Linked DNA regions of Homo sapiens. The protein of the gene in region 1 interacts with the protein of each later gene in a pairwise test. Each region holds a gene or a part of one and is shown on either strand. Other genes may lie near its edges.

Region 1 (2,816 bases):
ACTAAAGGTGAAGGAAACTTGAATCAGGAACCGAGAGTAATAGAGGCAATAGTTTTTCAATAAACTTCACGTGTACCAAGGGGACATGCTCAAAATGTTTTACTATCAGTGGCAGACAACTGATAAAAGCTTCAAGGGTTAGTTTGGTAATAGGTATGTATTTGTTATCTCTAGATCAGCCCCATCCAATAGAACTTTCTGCAATGATGTTTTATATGAGGTGGCCACTAGCCATAAATGGCTATTGAACACTTGAAAATTGTCACATCTATCCTATTTGCATAGCTTTAAAATTGTAATCTGGAAAAGGTTATTTTATTAGGCCTCCCATGCCAGATATTGCCCAAATTTTGACAATACTGGTCCTACCCCTTGACCATACATTCGTTTCAGGAAGATGACTATCCTAGAAATCCCAATGTTGAAGGAAGCCAGATTTAGGCTGAGAATTCCTTTCTCCTACAATTCTTTGGCACTTACCAAATGCTCAATAAATGCAGGTTAGCAATGCCTCCGCACAGACGATTAGAAGCCACGAGTTAAGACAAAAGGTTTTTATTCAAAAAACGCCAAGTATAAAAAAAAAAATAAGATCTCTTTTATTCCCCTGTACAGTATTTCACTCAGATAAAACCAGCAGGCTACCTGCTGCTCAAAACACAGCCCCAGAGAGGATCTGGAAGGCACACCATCCAGAACTGCTTTTCATAATTATCCTATATACACAGTCAGCAATGCCCCTCCCCATCACCCACAGAGCCGGGACCCACCTGGGTAAGTAGGTGAGGGGCCCCACAGAAGCCAGGGAGCTGCAGCACTGTCCCGCCTGAGTCCCGTCACCCCACAAACAGAGCAAGCGTCGCAGCCCTCCCCCAAAAGGTCCCCAAGTCAGAGGAGGAAAGGAGGAAAGAAAACTAGGGCAGCAGCTATGGAAGCTTGGAATAGGAAGGGAACCAAATAAATAAATAAATAAATACATAACATTGACCTCCAGGTTAGAATGCGCATCTTTCAAAACAAGAAACAAAAACAGGTAAAATAACTTAAAGGCAAAATTTCTTAAAAATTAGATCCACTACAATCTTTTTGTATACTACCATGCCAACTGTACACACATTTACAGCTTTTCTGTTGATTGCATTGTTTGTGCATTTTTTGTGTGTGTGAGGTCTTGGCTTTGAAACAGTTAAGTAAAAACCAAAAAGGAAGACCAGTTCACTCGGAGTTTTACTAAAGGAGGCAGAAAAAAGGGCAGGTGGCTCAGCGTTTGGCCCTGTAGCCTCTTCCATGGCACCTTTCATATGAAGGAGGGGGTGAGGGAGGACAGGAGAGAAAAATAGGGAACAAAACCCAGGCAGATTTTTGGAGAAGCAGCAGGTAAAAGAGGCAAGTTCAAGTATTTCTCCCAGCACAGCCGGAGTCCCCACAGAAGGCACTCAGAAAGAGTCGGAAGAGGTGACAGGGACTTAAAATGGTGCTAGTCCTATCCCATCCCAACCTGTTTCCCCCCTACCTGACCCATCGCGGCATTCAGCAGAACTCATGATGAAGGAAACAGTTCCATGGCAGGGTTCTGACCCACCCCCACCCCCCACCCCCGGGATATTTCAGAGTCCAGCAATGCTGGACACCTATGAGAAGAAGAGAGTATCTATGGGAGGAGTTGAGGCCTAGGACCCCTGGAGAGTCACTCTTCCCCACTGTTGGGAGGCAGCCTCCAGGGGCCTGGGATCTGGAATGAGTTGTAAATGTTGTTCCTGTATCAAGCACTGTCCTGCTTGGCGAGACGTGTCACTGGTACTCGGGAAGCTGGAGACAGAAGCTTCCCCTCCCTCGGGCATCTGACAAGAGAGGGGAGGACCTGCCAGAAAGGCTGCTATTTGCTGGGCCCCGGCGACAGGCTGTGGAGGTGGATCTCAGCAGTTTCCTGGGGCAGGAGAACATCTTGCATCCATGGATGGTTCTGGATTTCTTCGAAGGTTGGCCTATCTGATGGTCTCAGGGCCAAGCACCATCTAATGAGATGCTGACATTCTGCAGAAAGGAGGATAGACGAGGTTATGAATGACTCAACTTGTTTTTACACTGCAAAGGTCTTCCCCATTTGCTTCTCAGAGGCCCACAAGTCTGGGGTCCCAGGGAGGCCAAGCATTTTCTAGAACACTGTGCTGGGTACCCTTCAATAGGAAGGTATTGACTAATATCTGGGTCCTCCAGTCTGCTTTCAGCTAAAAACTGACTCCCCTCTTAAACCTGTGGTTTTCAAACTTCAATAGTGGGGGCCTTTCCCACAACACCCACTCACCAGAAATAGGAAGGATGATGACAAGAGATTTTGATGAGACACCACTGAGCATGATGAAATGATTCAATTCACCTACCAACTTACAAACACGAACACCACCCACAGTGAGGTCACTGGTACCAAAATATTTGGAGCTGCTGCCTTAAAGAAGATGCTAAAAGAGCTTTTAACTTTTTACTCCCTGGCAAAACAGCCAGGAATTATCAGGTTTCTGTTGGTACCTTTAAAAAAGTTTTTGGAGAAGCCAGATTGTCTTTTCTTCTTAATATGCTCACACATGCCTTCCTCTGACCTCCCAAGGAAAGCTCAAGTGCAAACCATGTGATTTATGAGGCCAGCTCAAGTGTAAATCACTCACCTACAATTCTAAGCCAAGGGTGACAGAATCTACTGGAGAGTGAAGCTCTCCAGAATTTCAAAGACTGTCCCATGAAGACTAATAGCCCCATTAAGACCAATAACCCCATGGCCAGGGGTTTCCATCAGTTACCTGAAGAGACCCTCTGCCTGA
Region 2 (7,039 bases), on another chromosome or scaffold:
GCTGTCATAATTTTTCCTAAATACATAAACTGCAAAATGAGATCAAAACATTCTGCACTAATTTTCATGTTGCTGAGATTCAGTTGTGCAGTACTATGCTGATGGTTCATGAAAAACATTCTAAAATAGGAGCTACAGGCAGCTAGAACTGCCTTGTGTGCTTGAAAGTAAATGTCATCAATTGCAATACAGCAGTCACAGAGAAAACCCCATTCTCTTTGGTTGTTTAGCTGCTGAAGGACATAGCTGCTGTGGCTGGGCTTTGCCATCTTCTGTTAATTAGAGACCTATGTAAAACAAAAATATTAAAGTCAAACAAGATATAGAAAAGCACTTGACAAAATTAACTTTTATCATGATTTGTGACTTGCATGACTGCTATTACAATCAAGAAATTAAGAGCTTTCCATTCTAATAAAACTCAATAATATATACTTGAATCATTTTTTAAATTTGAAGATGAAGACATCCAGCCATTTATTCAGGCTTTTCATATTGAACAAAGGCATCAAAAGCAAAAGACAGTTTTAGTTTCATTACAACTCTTGGGGGGAACATGTACACTAAATTTGAACAGAAAAAAAGACATTAATTTAAAAATACTTGAAGGAGGCCGAGTGCAGTGGCTCACGCCTGTAATCCTAACACTTTGGGAGACCGAGGCAGGAGGATTGCTTGAGCTCGGGAGTTTGAGACCAGCCTGGGCAATAGTGTGAGACCTCTTCTCTACAAAAAAGTTTAAAAAATTAACCAGGTGTGGTGGCATCACCTGTAGTCCCAGTTACTTGGGAGGCTAAAGTGGGTGGATCACTTGAGCCCGACAGGTAGAGGCTGTAGTGAGTTGCGTCACGCCACTGCACTCCAGTCTGGATGACAGAGCAAGACTCTGTCTCAAAAGAAAAAAAAAAAAAGAAAACAACTCTTGAAGGATATGAGTAATGAAAGTAAATAAAACAGCAACTTAAACTGAAAGTTAACAATTAGATTGTAAAGTATGAAAAACTTATTAAATGATTAATACTAAGGAGCTATTGCTCATTTTTTAAGTGTGAGAAAGGTATTTTGATTGTGTTAAAAAGAATCCTTATCTTTTGGATATATATACTTTAGTATTTACAGATGAAATGATACATCTGAGATATGCTTAAAAATAAATGGGGTGGGTGTGGGGAGCAATAGATGATACAAGATTGGCCATGTGTTGTTAAAATAATCTATTTTAAAAACCCTATTAAGCCTGGGCAACATAGCAAGATCTCGCCTTAAAAACAAAACAAAACAAAACAAAAAAACATTAGCCAGGCATGATGATGCACCTGCAGTCCCAACTACTCGGGAGACTGATGCAGGAGGATGGCTTGAGCCCAGGATTTTGAGGTTGTGGTGAGCCATGATCACGCCACTGTACTCTAGCTTGTGTGACAGAGTGAGACTCTATCCCAAAAATAAAAATTTAAAAAAACCTTATTAGGGCTGGGTGTGGTGGCTCACACCTGTAATCCCAGCACTTTGGGAGGCCGAGGCGGGCGGATCACGAGGTCAGGAGATCGAAACCATCCTGGCTAACACAGTGAAACCTTGTCTCTACTAAAAATACAAAAAAAATTAGCCAGGCGTGGTGGTGGGCGCCTGTATTCCCAGCTACTCAGGAGGCTGAGGCGGGAGACTGGCATGAACCTGGGAGGCGGAGCTTGCAGTGAGCCGAGATCGCACCACTGCACTCCAGCCTGGGCGACAGAGCGAGACTCCGTTTCAAAACAACAACAACAACAACAACAACAACAACCTTATTAGATTATATAGAAATGGCACCAAACAAGTTTGATCAGTGCCTTTGTCTTTTCTTGAATTATCAAAGAAGCAATAATTCTATAGAGTTAGAATGTGTCTCATGTTGCTCAACATGCATTTCAGGGTATAAAGAAGCAGTGGGTTTATTTGAGAAGGTATTTTATTTATCCTTAGAGTGTAAAGTTTTCTTCCTTTTTTTTTTTTTGAGGCAGGGTCTCGCTCTGTTACCTAGGCTGGAGTGCAGTGGCATGATCATAGCTAACTGCAGCCTCAATCTCCCATGCTCAAGCAATCCTCCCGCCACAGCATCCAGAGTAGCTGGGACTGTAGGCACATGCCACCACATTCAGTTTTTTTTTGTTTTTTTTTTTTTAATATTTTAGTAAAGACAAGGTCTTGCTATGTTGTCCAGGCTGGTCTTGAACTCCTGAGTTCAAGCGATCCTCCTGCCTCGGGCTTCCAAAGTGCTGGGATTGTGGGTGTGAGCCACTGCACCTGGCCTCTTCTATTTTTTTTTTTTTTTAATTGTTAAAAGAAAAAAGTAAGGCTGAGCGCGGTGGCTCATGCCTGTAATCCCAGCACTTTGGAAGGGTGAGGCTGAGGTCAGGAGTTCGAGACCAGCCTGGCCAACACGGTGAAAACCTGTCTCTACTAAAAATAAAAAAAGTTAGCCAGTCGTGATAGCGGGCGCCTGTAATCCCAGCTACTCGGGAGGCTGAGGCGGGAGAATCGCTTGAACCCAGAAGGCGGAGGTTGCAGGGAGCAGAGATTGTGCCACTACACTCCAGCCTGGGTGACAAGAACGAGACTCCATCTCAAAAAAAAAAAAAAAAGTAGCAAAAAATTCAAACATAGAGGCATATAGAATAAAAACACACCTCAGATCACACACCTCTTTTCAGAGGTAACCCCTCCAAACACTCTGGATTATATACCTTCAGATTTGTTGAGATGCACATGTACATAGTTAGCATATTGAGTACCTATGAGATGCCAGGCACATAGTTTTGCTTTTGTTGTGTTTTTTAACCTAAATGGTATCATACTATATATATATATATATATATATATATATATACCTCTCTGCAACTAGTTTTCTTCATTTAACATTAGACAATATTAGTGGGCATTTAAGTATTTTTAGTGTAGGGAGCTGACTTTGGATAAGGAAGAAAGGAGAGGAAGTATTAAAAGCACTAGAAATCCTATCATATTATAAAGTTAAAATAAGATCAAATTTTAGCCTCAATTTTTAATCCGTATACATAAAGCTTCAGAATCTATCTTCTACTTAAAAATAAGTTCCTATGCAATTTGACTGAACTTAAAAAGAACATGTAACAAGCTGTTTAGAGAAATAAAATGTTCACTCTTCAAGCTCTGTAGTAGTAATTAAGGGTATCTACGTTTACGTACTTCTATTTGCTTTTTATCCATTCCTCAGCGATCACATATGGGTCATACGCCCCTTTTACTACCTATATGCCCATCCTGCCACCTCTAAGACATAAAGTTCCATAGCCAGAGATACAGGACTGGTGAAATGAAGATGGCTTATGATGAAACCTGCTGCCTTCTTAAAATTGCAACCACTGCACCTTTTCTGGAAGCCAGATCAAGTTTCAAGTAAGTACAATATTTCAAACCTCTGTAACTCAGGTATCTGTAAAAAGCTGTGAGGAATCATGTTCAGTATGTATCTAAATACAAAAAGCAATGTATGCACAAAGATAGTCATTAATGAGTTACTTCTCATTTGAATGCCTAGTAAAAAAAGGAGTCTTAAGGTAAATCTACGCCCCAGAATTCACTGTCATGTGGCAGTGAATTAAAAATTGTATTTCTGGGCCAGGCGCAGTGGCTCATGCCTGTAATCCCAGCACTTTGGGAGGCCAAGGTGGGCGGATTACCTGAGGTCAGGAGTTCAAGATCAGCCTGGCCAACATGGTGAAACCCCATCTCTACTAAAAAATATATAAAAATTAGCCGGGCGTGGTGGCACATGCCTGTAAACCCAGCTACTCGGGAGGCTGAGGCAAGAGAATTGCTTGCGCCTGGGAGAGGGAGGTTGCAGTGAGCCGAGATCATGCCACTGTACTCCAGCCTGGCTGAGGGAGGTTGCAGTGAGTCGAGATCATGCCACTGTACTCCAGCCTGGCTGACAGAGCAAGACTGTCTCAAAAAAAAAAAAAAAAAAAAAATATATATATATATATATATATATATTTCTAAATGGCAACTACAGAAGTGGGAAAAATGTTCAAGATGGAGAGCCAAATAAATAAACACAGGATACATAATTATGTTAGAATTATATAAAACAAATCCACGCCACAACCTTATTCAAAAGGTGGGGGGAAAAAAGATGAAAAAAATACACAAAAATGTTGACCCAAGCCCGTTTTAAGTAGGATGAAATTTCTATGTCTATAGTCATTTTTCTAGGATTCAGAGAGACATTTAATAAATAATAAACTATAGAGTAAGAGGCAGAGGGATAGGTATTATTTCTAAAAAACCAAACTTTCTATTAATAAGAGTAATTCAAGAATGAAACAAACTTGTTTGGAGAATGAGTACCCATATTAAAGCAGGAACAGAATGCTATTGAGGACAGTATAATAAGTGAAAAGAGCATGGGCCTAGGATCAGACAGACCTGGCTTCTTATCTAGCTTTGCCACTTTTGGGAACTTGCTTATCCTCATTGACCCTAAGTTTCCTGAACTGAAAAGGTAGGGATAATACCTCAAATACAGTATCATATATGAGGATTCACAGAGGCAATGTGTAAAATGCATCGTGCTTGGCATGTAATAATGAAAGTAATAGTGGATGTTGTAATGGTGGTGATGCTTATTTAAGCATCAGGTAAGTTTGAGTTGATAACCTTAAAATTTCCTTCCAAATAACAGTCCATTAGAAAGCCAGTAGTTAATCTATAAAAACTTTCAAGTATTAAATAGTCCAGGCTTGAAATAATGATATAAAGAGCACAGAAGTTCCAAAGACCCTTTCTTATCTAGATGAGCAGCAGTTTTATCATCAGCAACCAAAATTAATACAACTACATAGAAGATCAATATGATAGGCACATCTATAGCTATAGTCACAATTCAACTGAGTAAAAATACATATTCTTTTATTAACATAAAACACTAAAACATTTAAATAAGAGCACTTATAGCATTTTAATGCACATTTATTCATTCAACAAACATTTACTGACTACCTTTGGTATACCAGGCACTGTATAAAGTGTTGATCATCAGCAGTAGCACAAGTATTCTGTATTCATTTGAGGAATTTTTACTTTTCCTAGATCAGTGATTTCATTCAACACGTATTCTGCAAAGCGCCCACTCTACAGAAGAAGGCATCATGCTGTAGTAGAAAGAACAAGTGCTCTCAGTCAGACGGATCACAGTGTGAATCCCACTGCATCCATGTTTATACTCCTATATTCCCCCTATAGAGCTGGAAGCTGAACAAATGGAAGCTGAACAAATGCTGTGTCTAATTTTTAATCCTAACACAACAGTTTTTAGGCTGACCTAGAATTGTAGTTTAAGTAACATTATTATGCAAATGTCCAAGTTCTGAGTAAAACTGATTTTAGGCACAGTAACTTATAATAGCAATCATTGACACATTAGTACCAGAAACTCTGTCCTTGTTACACCTCATTCAGAAAAGCTTTTTTCTTAAATTTTAATTATTATTTTTTTGAGACAGGGTCTTACTCTGTTACCCAGGCTGGCATGCCATCATAGCTCAGAATGTCCTCAATAGCATTCTGTTCCTGCTTTAATATGGGTACTCATTCTCCAAGCAATCCTTCCACCTCACACCTTCTGAATAGCTAGCACTACAGGCATACGCCACCATGACTGGCTAATTTTTGTATATTTTTTGTAGTGATGAGGTCTTGCTATGTTGCCCAGGCTGGTCTCGAATTCCTGGGCTCAAGCAATCCTCCCACCTCAGCCTCCCAAAGTGCTGAGATTACAGGTATAAACCACTGTGCCTAGCCCAGAAAAGCTTTAAGAAGGATTACTACACCAAAAACAGGTAGAGGAGTATGCGGCAGGGGAGGAGGGATCTAAATTCCTGTGAGACTTTTAGCTTATCTCTTGAAGATAATTTTTTCATTAAAAATTTTTGAGGCCGGGCACCGTGGCTCACGCCTGTAATCCCAGCACTTTGGGAGGCGGAGGCGGGTGGATCACAAGGTCAGGAAATCGAGCCATCCTGGCTAACACAGTGAAACCCTGTCTCTACTAAAAATACAAAAAATTAGCCGGGCGTGGTGGCAGGCACCTGTATTCCCAGCTACTTGGGAGGCTGAGGCGGGAGAATGGCGGGAACTCGGGAGGCGGAGCTTACAGTGAGCCAAGACTGTGCCACTGCACTCCAGCCTGGGCGACAGAGCAAGACTCCATCTCAAAAAAAAAAAAAAAAAATTATGAGGCATTCACTTTCATTAAATTATAATTTCACTCAAATTCCAAGAGGAGTTTGCTCTTTTTTCATTTTTTTGACCTCTTTATTAATGCTGCCAAAAAAAGTTAATGAACTTTATGTTCTAGTAAAGCCTATAAAAGGTTTTAAGTAAATGGACAGCTTGTATTTCAGCTGTTCTTGTTTTTACGACTGAAATCTGTGATTGCTTTTGTTTGTACTACTAGCTGCATCACTGGTAGGACAAGTTTAGCACAACTAGAAGTCAAGGGCTCAGGTCTGAGAGCAGAACCTCCAATGTGACTCAAAGGACTTAATGTCATTTGGATAAGGAAAACAAGCTATATAATGCCAAGAGTTACACTAAGGCTAGAAGGATACCCACTGTGCAGAACTCTAGCAAGAATTAAGGAGTTAGGTGATCCAAAAAGTTTTATACTGGATTTTTAAAATTTTAGTCTGAAAAAGTTTAACGGCTCATCTCAAGTTTAAAAACAGTCACCAAGCACATTAAGCATATTAAGTAATTTAATCATACATTTTTAGAGCTTAGAGAGATCTAATCTAGTCTAACATTCTTATTCCATAGAAGGCAAAGATACATGGTTTTTAATGTATCAGGGTATAGTTAACTGTGCTGAAGCACATACTAGGACTAAGGACTCCTGACCACCCAGATAGTAATAACCTCTATATATGGCACTTCCTTGGTACTATACAGTATGGTCTTCCGGAAAGAACACTAAACAAGGACAGGGCATGAGTCCTTAATACAGGGTTTGTTGGTT
Region 3 (7,816 bases), on another chromosome or scaffold:
GCACGGTGGCTCATGCCTGTATTCCCAGCACTTGGGGAGGCCGAGGCGGGTGGATCACCCAAAGTCAGGAGTTCGAGACCAGCCTGGCCAACATGGCAAAACCTCGTCTTTACTAAAAACATTAAAAATTAGCTGGGCGTGGTGGCACATGCCTGTAATCCCTGCTACTCAGGAGGCTGAGGCAGGAGAATTGCTTGAACCCAGGAAGCGGAGGAGGTTGCAGTCAGCTGAGATCCCACCATTGCACTCTGGCCTGGAGCAAGACTCCATCTCAAAAAAAAAAAGAAGTAACTCTAATAGAACATCCAGTGTCCAGATATTAGCTTCTAATACCATTCTAAAGCAAAATAATCACAGTGCCTTGGAGAAATGGATCATTCCAAGGTTGGGACATGGAAAATACAAAATAAGCCTGAGCATTCTCTGATGCCAGAAATCAAGAAATGCATTAAAAAAGAAAAAGAGTCCGGGCATGATAGCTCACACCTGTAATCCCAGCACTTTGGGAGGCCGAGGCGGGCAGATCACTTGAGGCCAGGAGTTTGAGACCAGCCTGGCCAACATGGAAAACCCCGTCTCTACTAAAAAATACAAAAAGTAGCCAAGTGTGGTGCTACGTACCTGTAATCCCAGCTACTTGGTAGGCTGAGGCACAAGAATCGCTTGAGCCTGGGAGGCGGAGGGTGCAGTGAGCCGAGATCGTGCCACTGCACTCCAGCCTGGGCGACAAAGACTCCGTCTCAAAAAAAAAAAAAAAAAAAAAAGAAGGAAAAAGAAAAAGCAAGTGTATGTCAAAGTGGCACAGGCGCCAACCTGAAAAAGGTCCCAGTGGTGAAAGCCAGAACAATTTGAGCAGCAAATTAAATACTGATAATATTGGATTATAACCCATATAACAAAACAAATATCCATGAGCCCATACTGATACAAATAACTGAATCAATGAACAGGAGAGAAGGGTCAACTCTTCCCTACAGAAGGGAATTTTAATTAAAAAATGTAGAAGGAAGAAAATAGGGGTTTTGTTTAACCATTAGGAAAAAAAACCCGCTAAACAACATGTTCCACAAATGGATGCTTAAATTAATGAATAAAAGTTTAAGGAAAAATGGCAGTGCAGGTTTCTCTCCCAAGATCTCAAATACAAAGGGAATCTGGCAAACAGATTAACATCATAGGTAATAAGAAGTATCGGCTAGGGCACAGTGGCTCACGCCTGTAATCCCAGCACTTTGGGAGGCCAAGGCAGGAGGATCACTAGAGGTCAGGAGTTCGAGACCAGCCTGGCCAACATGAAACCTGTCTCTACTAAAAATACAAAAAATTATCTGGGCATGGTGGCAGGCGCCTATAATCCCAGCTACTCAGGAGGCTGAGGCAGGAGAATCGCTAGAACCTGGGAGGCAAAGGTTGCAATGAGCTGAGATCGTGCCACTGCACTCCAGTCTGGGCAATAAAGCAAGACTCAGTCTCAAAAAAAAGTATTGACATCATGTACCCAATATGACATACTGAGATGGAAACTTTACTTCTGTGACATTTTTCCCCAAAATGCAGAACATTCATCTAATCATGACACTAAACATCAAGCAAACACAAATTGAGGGGCATTCTACAAATTAACTGACCGGGTCTTCTTCACTAGTGTCAAGGTCCATGAAAAAACAATGAAAGGCTGAGGAACTGTCACAGATCAGAGAAAATTAAGGATATTTAGCAGTTAAATGCAAAGTGAGATCATCGATTGGATCCTGGGCAGAAAAAGGACAGTGGAAAGACAAGTGAAATCCAAATAAAGTCTGTAGTTTAGTTCATTGTATTATAGTAGCATGCCCATGTTATTAGTTTTGGCCCTTGTTATGCATGATATTATGGGAACTCTCTGTACTATTTTTTGCAAATTTTCAGTAACTCTCAAATTATTTCACAATTAAAAGTTATTATAAAATAAATAATAAAATAACCAACATCTTTCAATGTTTATAATGGAAGGGTAATGTTAGACTTAACATGCCATCTTTGTCGTTGAAACCTTTCTCATCAAGATCTCATCAAGATCTATACAATCCAGTCAAAGCTGTACTCTGAAAGCACTGTTTTGTAAAGAATATCAATAAAAAACATCTCTTCCTTACTACTCTGGTGTATTTATTTATGACTAGCTGACATTCAAATGATAAGAGAGCTGTAAGATCCTCCTAAAAACCAAGCTTTAGGGGATATCTCTAGGACTGAGAAGGGAGTAAGAGCACTCAACTATCCACAGAAAATTACAAAAGGGAGTTCAATAATTCTTTAGCAAACCATCCAAAGCTTTAAAGGGATTGACCAATAATTTGTCATTTACCTATTCCCAATTGTCATTGACCAATTCCTATATTGGTCAACCCCTTTAAAATATTAACATCAACAAATGTTTCCTCCACCTATAGTAACTTCTGTGCTCAGTGGGTTTTTATCCTTCCAATATCAACTTTAATTTCATACATTTGGAGAAAGGCCAAGAGTTTTTACCAACCCACACTTAACACACTATGGGACCCAGAATCAGTTTGCACCAGGGCATCATTTTCTGAAAAACCACTTTGAACTGTCAGTTTTAAACTGCATACCCACTTTCAAATGAAACTGCGAAAGGCTAAAAAACTCAGTCGTCTCGTTTGAACGGTTACCGATTTTCTAACAAATATATACACAACGCCCACCAACCTTTCCAGACACACACTCTCAGCGAAACTGGTTTTACAATTTACTCACTCAGCTTAATAGAGCTCGGTCTTAACCAAAGGCTCAGGATCTCAGGATGCGTGCGCTCGGAGGCAGCGCTTTAACAATTAAGGATGTAAATGTTGGGATGAGTCACCCGGACCTTCCAAACAAACTCTAAAGCAGCAGTTTCCACTTAACAAGACCACCAAGCATGTGCACGGTGCGTTCCTAAATCCTACCCAGTTCCTCCACAGGCTGCCTCCTTGCCGCGTCTCTCAATCTCAGTGGGAGTGGCGGGCACTGCCTCTTCCCTCCTGCGCGCCCGGAACCTTTTGAGTGGGCACAGCACGCAGCCCGCGCGCGGCACAACCCCTTCCCCCAACCACACCCGGCGCGCCCGAGCGCTCCCCTCGCGCGGCGGCCGGCGTGGGAGGCGCTGCGGCTGGAGGTCACGATGGGAGCCGGCGGGTGGCCGCCTGGGGAGACCCGGACATCCAGGGGACGAGCTCAGGCAGCGCTGACACGAACTTCCTAAGCCGCGCTTCGGGCTGTGGACCGCCAGAGCTGAACGCAGTGGCCCCTCCCCAGCGCCCCGGGTTTCCCCAGGTCGGGGTTCGCGGGCGGGGGTGAGGCGTGGCCCCGACTGCCGGGCCGCGATAAGCGCCCTGCGACCCGGCTGAAAGCGCACACGTGTCCTGCCGCGCTGAGCCGCCAGCAGGACTGGTACCACCGCCCTCCCTCGGGGCTAGGGTCACCCTGCCGTGACACGCAGGGACAAGCCAAACACTCCCGCCTCCGGGATCGAACGGAATGAACCAGAGTGATTAACTACGAGAATCACCAGGCGCTCATTGGGCTGATCAGTACCTCGTCTGACCTAGCTGGGTTTGGTCGCCGTCACTGGCCGGAGCGCCGAAGCACCGGGGACGCTGACGCACAGGTTGCCCAGTCACAAGCGCTGCTCGCACCCAGAGCAAGTTAAATGGGTGGTTTCTGGTGAATGGGATTCTGAGAAAGTGGATGCTTGCGCCCCAGGGCCTAAAAAAATCAGGCACTGAATCTAACCCAAGGAAGGAAAGGGGAGAAACTTACTGAATGAAAATATTACCATAGTTTAAATGTTATTCTTTACACTCCTGTGACTGACATACTTCTGTGCAATATTCCGATGGTGTGGAAAGGCTAGAAAGTGATTGCGCATGTTCAGGAAACGGGCCATCAGGCTTTGTGAGTGTAGCCATCCCAACATCTACCTGCTGCATCTACCCTAGGAAATTAGTACCTGCATGCAGATATTTTCTGGTTTGCATTTACAAACAAAAATCATAGTATCATTTAAGTTGTTTAAATCAACACTAGGAATAACTATTAATGGTTCACCCAATGCAGGAAAGTTTTAGCTAGGAAGCCTAGATAAGAAAATTGACTATACATAATTTTTTAAAAAGAATTTTAAATATACCATACCGCATGCTTTTTAAAAGAATTTTAAGGTATATATTCATGATGCGCCCAAACATTTGGGTAAAATTATTCTTTTGAATTAATTTCTGTCAGTTTCAAGACCCTTAAAGGCCCATATAGAAATACATGTTAGTCATACTTCATTTTAAGACAAAATTAAGGCCAGCACGGTGGCTCATGCCTGTAATCCCAGCACTTTGGGAGGCTGACGCAGGCAGATCACTTGAGGCCAGGAGTTCGAGACCAGCCTGGCCAACATGGTGAAACCCTGCCTCTACTAAAAATACAAAAGTTAGCTGGGTGTGGTGGCGAGGCTGTAATCCCAGCTACTCGCGAGGCTAAGGAACAAGAAGCGCTTGAACACAGGAGGCAGAGGTTGCAAATGACCCGAGATCCCACCACTGCACTCCAGCCTGGGCCACAGAGTGAGACTCTGTCTCAAGAAAAAAAAAAAAATTAAGATAAAGTTTTCAGACCTGGCCGTTAACGACTGTTTGCAAAAACTGAAAAATCTCCGAAAAATAAATTTTATTTTAATTTTCTTTTTAGCTCACCCAGATAAGTGAAAAGAATAAAATTTTATGATACCAGAAAAAATGAAAACATTTCCAGCAAGATCTGAAGGCACTACAGGAGGAGACTGAACAAAAATGGAGAAAACACACACGAAACTGATATGAAGCACATTTTTAAAAATGGATACTTAGTTGAATATAGCATTCTGTAATTATGCAAAGTAAAAACAAATCAAAACCCTATACATAGAGGCCAGGCACGGTGGCTCACGCCTGTAATCCTAGTACTTTGGGAGGCCGAGGCAGGTGGATCACCTGATATCAGGACTTCAAGAGCAGCCTGGCCAACATGGTGAAACCCTTCTCTACTAAAAATACAAAAATTAGCCGGGCATGGTGGCTCATGCCTGTAATCCCAGCTACCCAGGAGGCTGAGGCAGGAGAATTGCTGGAGCCAGGGAGGCAGAGGCTGCAGTGAGCCAAGATCATGTCACTGCACTCTAGCCTGGGTGACAACGTGAGACTCCATCTCAAAAAAAAAAAAAAAAAAAAAAAACCTATACATAGAAAATTGCTGGGCAAGGAGTGACAGCTCACTCCTGTAATCCCAACACTTTGGGAGGCAGAGGCCAAAGAATTGCTTGAGCCCAGGAGTTCAAGACCAGCCTGGGCAACATACTGAGACCCTATCTCTACAAAAAAAAAATATTTTAAATTACACTGGGTGTGGTGGCTTACACCTGTAATCCCAGCACTTTGGGAGGAGGCCAGAGGATTGCTTGAGCCCAAGAATTCGAGACAAGCCTAGGCAACACAGGGAGCCCCTGTCTCTACAAACAATTTTTTTTTTTAATTTTTTTTTTTTTTATTATACTCTAAGTTTTAGGGTACATGTGCACATTGTGCAGGTTAGTTACATATGTATACATGTGCCATGCTGGTGCGCTGCACCCACTAACGTGTCATCTAGCATTAGGTATATCTCCCAATGCTATCCCTCCCCCCTCCCCCGACCCCACCACAGTCCCCAGAGTGTGATATTCCCCTTCCTGTGTCCAAGTGATCTCATTGTTCAATTCCCACCTATGAGTGAGAATATGCGGTGTTTGGTTTTTTGTTCTTGCGATAGTTTACTGAGAATGATGGTTTCCAATTTCATCCATGTCCCTACAAAGGACATGAACTCATCATTTTTTATGGCTGCATAGTATTCCATGGTGTATATGTGCCACATTTTCTTAATCCAGTCTATCATTGTTGGACATTTGGGTTGGTTCCAAGTCTTTGCTATTGTGAATAGTGCCGCAATAAACATACGTGTGCATGTGTCTTTATAGCAGCATGATTTATAGTCCTTTGGGTATATACCCAGTAATGGGATGGCTGGGTCAAATGGTATTTCTAGTTCTAGATCCCTGAGGAATCGCCACACCGACTTCCACAATGGTTGAACTAGTTTACAGTCCCACCAACAGTGTAAAAGTGTTCCTATTTCTCCACATCCTCTCCAGCACCTGTTGTTTCCTGACTTTTTAATGATTGCCATTCTAACTGGTGTGAGATGATATCTCATAGTGGTTTTGATTTGCATTTCTCTGATGGCCAGTGATGATGAGCATTTCTTCATGTGTTTTTTGGCTGCATAAATGTCTTCTTTTGAGAAGTGTCTGTTCATGTCCTTCGCCCACTTTTTGATGGGGTTGTTTGTTTTTTTCTTGTAAATTTGTACAAACAATTTTTTAAAAATTAGCTGGATGTGATGGCACATGCCTGTGGACCTAGCTATTTGGGGGGCTGAGGTGGAAGGATTGCTTGAGCCCCGGGGTTCAAGGCTGCAGCGAGCCATGATCAGAGTGAGACCCCACTCTAAAGAAAAAGAGAAAGAAAGAAAATAGCAGGAAAGTGTTCATTTGTTCTGGGTAGTAACATGGAATGTCTTTTATCTTGTATTTTAGTGTAATTTTCTAAATTTTATGTAACAAATTTAGAAAATTATAAATTTTATAATGAAAAATGGATTTTAAAAGTAAAATAAACTGATAAAATATACATATAAAGACACATGACAATAGAGTCCTCACTTGAAATAGGACTAAAACTAAAAAAAAGTTTCCTTAATTTTAGTCTAATTTTAAAAATATTTTAGATTGTGATGTTTCATATTTATAGGTCGGTTTATTTGCTAACTAAAGTTACATTGGGAGGCAGTGGTAAATCAAATAAAAATTCAAAATAAAGTTTTATTAGTTCCTAACCTCATCCTAATATTTTATCAAATTCTATTTGATAAGTTCAGATTAAAGCCAGCATTTTATAAATGTATTGCACTGTATAGAAATGAGTCATTTTAACTTGTAAGTTAGCATTGTTTTTGGAGCTAGCCATAGAATTTTAGAGAAAAAGGACCTTCCTCATTAGGTCAGATGTTAGATGACTTTCCTCATTTTACAGATAAGTCACCAGTGCAAAGGAGACTGATTTGCACAAGGTTAAAGGTTAAGTGACTCACAGCCTTCCAAGCCATTGCCCTCTGCCCTCCACCACAGGACCTTTCTTTTATTTTACCAGGCAAGAGTCACTGCCCAGTATTTATAAGGCCCCATATTGAGACTCCTGCTGAATGCCTGTGCACCAGTTGCAAAGAGCTGGTAAGGCCCCAGTATGCTACATTTCTTAGTGCTTACTCCAAAGGTGAACTCCAGAATTGTCAATTTTCCCTGGCAAGGTCAGGTTTCAGACAGGATTCACCATGGGCCTGGGGACATTTGGGTTACATATATAACAGATGTATTCAGTCCGAGTATATCTATTTTCATTACCACTCCAAGTTAAGAAAATAACAGTGGAAGAGAGGCTATGTGCACAGTATTCCCCCACAGCCCAGCTCACAGCTATCAGGGCCTTTGACTAATATGGCAAGAGAAAGTTCAGTCTATAATGGTGCAAACAGTTATTGTAAATAAAATAATGGAAACAGTTTAAAACTCTTCCTAAAGATTTCAGTATAAAAGGAAGGTGAGAGAAAGGAATATAGCTAGAGGCTATCTTAGGGTTCAGAGAAAATATTCATTTGGTTTGAATTAGACAGACTAGAACATGTGTGCATGCCAAGAGGACAAGCCATAAAG
Region 4 (7,039 bases), on another chromosome or scaffold:
CACTCCAGCCTGGGTGACAGAGTGAAGCACAATCTCTAAACACACACACACACACACACACACACACACACACACACACACACACGCATGCACACACACAGATATATATAAAAGTATACTGTCATTTAAAAAGATACATTATTTATATATTTTGACGTTTACTATGCAAAATATAAAGTACTTACGAAAGAAGTAGGATGAATGGTATAATAAACACTTATGTACCTGTCACCTGAATTCAAATAGTTTACATAATTATCAACATGTAGCCAATCACGTTTCATCTATAACTCTACCTTTCTGAGGCAGACTTCAGACTTCAGTATATATAGAACATAAATTCATAAAGGCAAGTATTAGATTGGGAAAATCCCTTATACAATGAACGTGTATTAAAAACACTTCTTCCTTACTACTTAAAAATATATTAAATTATACTTAGCACCCAGATCTCAGTTTCTAAATATCATTTTCCAATAAGAATTCTCCAACAGTTCCTTGAAAAATGGCTGTTTCTAGGGCTGGGGCAGAAACAATACAAGACAATGAGCTTGGAGCATCTTAAAGTACCAGGAAGTCGGAACACACTTCAGAAAAGTAAAAGGATGGTGGCATGCCTAAAAGGACACAAGAGCCAAATGAATTGGGTTCCCAGAGCTGAAAGAATTTAAGCAACAATATAAACAAAAGTATGGGATCATAACCTGAAGAATAAAATAAATAACCATCAGTCCATACTGATATACCCAAATAACTGAATAAATAAATAAATGGGACAGAGAGAACAAATCTTCCTTGCAGAAAAATTCAACTAACAAGTGTAGAATGAATAAAGAAAACTGAAAATCACTATTAAAACACCATGGAAGTAATTGCTGTAGATAAGATTCCCTGATGAATGCTAAAAATAGTAGGAAAAAGTTTAAGGAAAAAGAAGATGTTTGCCTAGCCTCAAGGTAGCGCGCTATTAATTACTACAGTGATTTTAATGTAAGCCCAAAAACTTTTTGATACTCCTCCCTCTAGAAACTGAAATACAGTGCCTGGAATGCAGGCAGGGTTTAGTGACCTATTTCTAATGAACAGGGTATAGAAGAGGAAAAATTATAATTTTACCATGGAGAAACCTGGCAAGTACCAGCTTAACCAAGTGATTAAGGTTAACATCACCAGTAAAAGTCATGTTGCTATCATGAACCCCTGATATGATGCAATGAGAAGGGCCCTTTATTTCTGTGATAGTTTTCTCAAAAATTCAAAAGTCTCAATCTAATGAGAAAACGTCAGACACACCAGAATTGAGGGACATTCTACAAAATACCTGACCACTGCTTTCAAAGTGTCAAGGTCACTGCTATGTGAAATCCTAACCCCTAGGGTAATAGTATTAGGAGATGCGGCCTTTGCAAGGTGATTAGTTCATAGGGCAAAGCTCTCATGAACGGAATTAGTGTCCTTACGAAGAGACCCCAGAGAGCTCCCTTGTCCCTTCTACCATGTGAGGACACAGAAAAGATGGCCATCTACAAACCAAAAAGTGGGCCCCCACCAAGCCAATGAATTGGCCAGTGGCCTGACCTCGGACTTCTAGCTGCCAGAACTGTGACAAATTAACTTCTTCTATTGTTTATAAGCCAGTCAGTCTATTGTATTTTATTACTGCAGCCCCAAAGGACTGAGACAATCGCAAAAGACCAAGAAACTGTCACAGATTAGAAGAAACCAAGGGGACATGTGACTAAATGTAATGTATAGCATTGATTGGATCCTGAAAAAGAACATGAGTGGAAAAACTGAGGAAAGCCTCAGTTTTTTGTTTTTTTTTTAAAGTCTGTTGTTTAGCTAAGAGTACTGTATCTATGTTAATTTCTTAGTTTTGATAAATGTACCATGGTTACATAAGATGTTAACAATAAGGGAAGCTGAGTGAAGGGATATAGAAACTATTTGAACTATCTTTGCAATTCTCTTATAAATCTAAAATTATTTCAAAATAGAGTTTTAAACAATAAAAAAATACATACACTAAATTCAGGTGTCCTAAAAATAATTTTTATAAGGATTGAAACATAAAACCAAGATTCCTTCAAGAAATAAGAACCATAAGAAGCCTTATCCATTAAATAATGAACACTTCTTGTCAAAAAGTGAATGCTTGTTTTACAAGAACAATCTCAGGTATGCTTTTCAATTTATAACCAAAAAACAGCAAAGCTCACATACTGACCTGGCTTTTATTAACATGATCGTTGGGATGCACAGGTATCTTGCTGCCAAGTTCACCTCCTAACATTTCAATTGCTCTATTGCTAATGACTTCATTTACATTCATATTTGTCTGAGTTCCTGATCCAGTCTGCCATACCACGAGAGGAAAATGATCATTTAATTTACCTTCAGCTACCTGCAGAAAAAATGTTAAAAATGTATTTTAAAAAAGGAAATAATAATGCTGATTATGCCACAGAGTTTGAATACAGTTGACCCACATATCTAAGCTTCTGAAGCATCACTTGCTCCAACCACAGATACTTTAAAAAGTGAAATATTATCTATAGTGAATGGTATGACAATTCACTGGTTTCAAATGAAAAGGGAATCAAAGGTATCTTTCTTATCTCTCTCCCACAGCCTCCTCTAACAGAGGACCACCTGTTAAGGCTGGCAAATACGTTTAGTCTCTAGATATATTTGTTGCTGGTGCTCAGCAGGAATATCCAACAGATGTTATTGCCAGAGTCAGCATGCTAATGAGCTAGTAACTTGAAAATGTGAGTTCACTAATAGCTACTTCATTGCACAGATGTCCAATGAGCAGTAATCACCAAATGTAGAAATAAACGCTGCCCAGATTTGCCCCTATTTTTGTTGTATTTTTATACATCCAGCTTATGTGTTAGTTTTTGGATGGTGTGCTTTGTAAAATATGGGTGGTTAACAATCTTCTGGAATGATTTTAGCTTAAAAAATCAGAATGCACTTGAGAAATCTATTACCTTGAACAACTGGTCCACTTTAAAATAAAACTTTTTTCTGGTTATATAAAAATATGTGATTAGTGTAGAAAATTTTGAGAACTGAGAAAAGTAAAACAGTCACTATAGTTCTATTGCTCAGTAATTATGACTATTAGCATGTTGGCATCCCCAGTCTCTATCTCATGCAATGAGGGTGTGTGTGTGTGTGTGTGTGTGTGTGTATATGAGAAACACACACTTTCTGTTCATTTTTTCCTAAACAAAATTAGGATCGTAAAATACATATATTTTTGCAAACTTTCCTCCCTATTTCTCATAGGCTAGGCTTTGTGCATGCCAATCTTCAAAAAAGTAATTTTCTATAATTTACCATATAAATATAATTTATATAAGTAGCTGTTATAGTTACGCATTGTCTAATTTGTTTTCATTATTATAAATAGTGCTGTAATTAACAACACTATATATACAGTTCTGTTACCTCTGATTGCTTCTTTAAGACAATGTTATTAGCATATTAGTAAAATTACATTCTCAATATGCATTATCAAATAATCAACTGGTTTTAAAAAGATTTATATATAAAATAAAAAATCAAGTAAAGTTCAAATGATATCTTTTCAAAAAATTTTCTTAAAACTATATAAATTAAGGAAAGTCAAAAGGCTTAAAAACAAAAGGTATAAAATCATCCAGAAATTTTGTCACAATGTAACGTTTTAAGCACCATATTAATATCACCACTAAAAATAATGCTACCACCCTCCCCTGAAATTCATTAATTCAAGAATTCACAGTTCCCCTTTCCTTCTGCCAGAGCATATCGTCATCCAGAGTATGGCATGGGTCTGAGGTTATTAAGCAAACACACTTATCACCTCCTACCTCATCTGCTGCCTTCATTATTGCATTAGCAATCTTTGGATCAAGACCATAATCCTGGTTTACTTCAGCGGCCGCTCGCTTCAAGATGCCAAAAGCTTTAATAACTGGGGTCTAAAATTAATCAGAAAAATATTTCAAATTTACAATTTTACTTAAGCATGGAAGTTTATTATTTTGGCAGATGCAAAAGCTATACATAAAACAATAACAATAAAACAGTAACACTATAGCTCTAAAATGTTTCGGTTATAGAGAAAGATTATAGACAGGAATTCATGAACCAAGAATCAACATTATCATAGATCTATTTGTTTAAGGAACCAAATAAAAACAAATACATTGACTCTTCATATATATATGTGTGTACGTCTCCCACATACATATACACACATATTCACACGAATACAATCCTATGCACAAATACACACAATAAATTATATGTGTTTATTTCATATACTATAAATAAAAACAAATTTAGTACTCAATCTTTTCACCAGCAAGAACCATTATTTTCTCTTACTGGATCCCACGTTACATTATAATTGTTTCCTTCCCCTCTTAAAAAAATAAATAAATAAGGGATATATTTAACTGCCAATCAGTATGAGACTACCAGTGACTGACTGGGTTATCATTTCACCCCAAGGCCAAAAAGCAATCTATTCTACTTAGCTAGTAAAGCCTTAATACTCAGTAACTCCCTGGACATTTCTCTCAGAAGAATTATTTTTTTAAACCCAAGATTCTCCAGACCTAAAGGTGACAGCTTCCGATATATATAAAACCCCATTAATGCAGATATTTTCATTGTCTATCCCAAATCACCTCACCAAGCTTGAAAAGGATAAACTGAAATGAAAACCTAGTTTTTATAAGACAAGTGAATTGTGAGTTCTTGTCAAAATTAATAATACAGATTGTTGTATAGATCCCACACCAGGTTTGAATGGGGAAAGAGTAGAAGGGAGAAAGGGAAGAAAGGAAGAGAATGATGAATGTATAAGAGAGAACCTGCTATCTCTGGAATCAAAGTAGAAAAAGCCAAGAAAAGTAAGAAATAAGACACATTAAAAACATAAACCTGGACCAGAGTAAGTATAAGCTGAGGGTCAAATAGAAAAGGAAAACCAGAAAATTTGAAATTTCAATTTTAAGTAACTAAAATTAAAACATTAGAAACGTTTGACTCAAACGAAATGAGGACAGATGGCACACAGGATTAGAAACTTAAAAACTTTAAACACAAAAACAAATGGGAATTTAAATCTCCACAGTAACAAACACTGAGGTAGTGGGCTGAACCACTACCAAGGGCAAAGGTGAATGCCAATCAACGCTGGCCATCTGAATGGAGTGAATGACCCCCAGTGTTTATGGACCATAAAAATAAAAAAGGGTCATTCACAGCAGAAAGAGGTTCAACGAACACCATAAAATGGCAAAATGTATCACTAGAGAGAAAAGACAGGTCACTTTATTCTTAATTTATTCACATTAGATGTTCATAATCTTTTTAGCTTTGTTTTCCTCTGGACCTCAAGTAAAAAGGGTTGAGTTTAATCATACTACTCAGTTTAGAGTACATACAGACTGTTTTACACATAATAAAGTTCAGAAAGTATGACAAAATCGAGACCCCAGGTGTCTGCCTTTCACAGGTGTGCAATCCCAATGGCTGTGCTGTCTCTGGAGCAGCAGCAGCAGGAACCATGCCCCACCAGAACCACAAAACATGCTGGTGACACAGATCAATGAAAACGGCAGCCATGCTCACTCCCACCAACACTAGCTGGGGCTGACCTCCTCCTTAGTCTCTGGAGTTGAATAATATGAGATTATTTTAGGATTGGTCACTACCCTTTTTCACCTAACCACGTAGTCAAACTATGTTTACCTCACCACCAAGAAGGCTGTAGATGGCAATGACAAAGATATTCTCATCAAAGATTCAGCTGCCTGTTGTAAAGTTCTATATACCTGTCAAGAGGCAGTCTTGAAGGCTTAGGAATGACTTAAAATTATTGAAAATAAAAGCATATTTATAAGATAAGTGTTAAACAATATCTCACAGGATGAAGCCTATCTACTTCTAGGCTTACTAGCCTATCCTGCATTGACTATTTTTCATACTCCGGTTGGGCTCCCGTAGAATATGTTATGCATTTCTCAATTCTTTTCACACTTTAACATCTCTGAAATCAAGATGTATCTTGTAATCAATGGTAAGTCACAACCTTAATTGGTAGCATTTTTCTTTCTTAGTGGTGCCTATTGGTGCATCTTCTAATTAATGGCATCTTAAATTTAATTGAATGTGGTAGAAAGTTTTCTCATCATTTAATCATTCATATGGAATTGAATAAATACTTATATATTATCTATTATATGTCAGACATGGTTAAGAGTAATACTTTGATGTGTTTGTGTACTATACACTTTTTAGGAAACTGAAACCAAAATACAAAGTGTAATTTTAAAAAATCTCAGTTTTAAATTAGTGGGGGAAAAAAGAATGAGTATTGAAATAAAAATATTTACAAACTGTAGAACCCTAGTAAAAATCTGTAAATACCCAGCAAGAGTGAAAAGACAATCATTTAGTTCTGCCAAATAAAAATCCAAAATAACTATTCACAATAGCAAAGACATGAAATCAACCCAAATGTCCATCAATAAAGGATAAAGAAAAAGTTGTATATATCCACCATGGAATATTATGCAACCATAAAAAAGAATGAGATCATGTCCTTTGCAGAGATATGGATGGAGCTAGAAGCTGTGACCCTCAGCATACTAACAGAGGAACAGAAAACCAAACCCGCATGTTCTCACTTGTAAGTGGGAGCTGAACAATGAGAACATATGGACACAAGGAGGGGAACAAAGCACACAGGGGCCTGTGGGCGGAGGGGGAGCAGCAGAAAAAATAGCTAATGCCGGGTTTTAATATCTAGGTGATGGGTTGAGAGGTGCAGCAAACCACCATGGCACACATTTACCTATGCAACAAAACTGCATATCCTGCATGTGTATCCCGGAACTTAAAATTAAATTAATTTTTTTTTTTTTGAGACGGAGTCTCACTCTGTCGCCAGGCTGGAGTGCAGTGGTGCGATCTCAGCTCACTGCAACCTCCGCCTCCCGGGTTCAAGCAATTCTCCTGTCTCAGCCTCCAG

The links.
Region 2: the proteins of PIM1 (region 1) and ZBTB1 interact in binary tests that used the Homo sapiens proteins (3 or more experiments, as listed by UniProt).
Region 3: the proteins of PIM1 (region 1) and ABCG2 interact in binary tests that used the Homo sapiens proteins (3 or more experiments, as listed by UniProt).
Region 4: the proteins of PIM1 (region 1) and FH interact in binary tests that used the Homo sapiens proteins (3 or more experiments, as listed by UniProt).

Annotation. Positions count from the first base shown.
Region 1 is NC_000006.12:37,173,152-37,175,967, reverse strand, and holds the end of PIM1 (serine/threonine-protein kinase pim-1), read right to left. Parts: coding exon 2,796-2,816; intron 2,035-2,795; coding exon 1,877-2,034; 3' UTR 540-1,876; downstream 1-539. UniProt on the Homo sapiens protein: Proto-oncogene with serine/threonine kinase activity involved in cell survival and cell proliferation and thus providing a selective advantage in tumorigenesis.
Region 2 is NC_000014.9:64,514,735-64,521,773, reverse strand, and holds part of ZBTB1 (zinc finger and BTB domain-containing protein 1), read right to left. Parts: intron 5,175-7,039; exon of another isoform or gene 5,023-5,174; intron 3,418-5,022; exon of another isoform or gene 3,236-3,417; intron 288-3,235; 5' UTR 270-287; coding exon 1-269.
Region 3 is NC_000004.12:88,155,629-88,163,444, forward strand, and holds the start of ABCG2 (broad substrate specificity ATP-binding cassette transporter ABCG2), read right to left. Parts: upstream 2,945-7,816; 5' UTR 2,758-2,944; intron 1-2,757. Other genes in the region: uncharacterized protein LOC124900867, read right to left, coding at 2,945-3,454, 3,842-3,928.
Region 4 is NC_000001.11:241,509,740-241,516,778, forward strand, and holds part of FH (fumarate hydratase, mitochondrial), read right to left. Parts: intron 3,975-7,039; coding exon 3,864-3,974; intron 2,405-3,863; coding exon 2,228-2,404; intron 1-2,227. UniProt on the Homo sapiens protein: Catalyzes the reversible stereospecific interconversion of fumarate to L-malate. Experiments in other species have demonstrated that specific isoforms of this protein act in defined pathways and favor one direction over the other.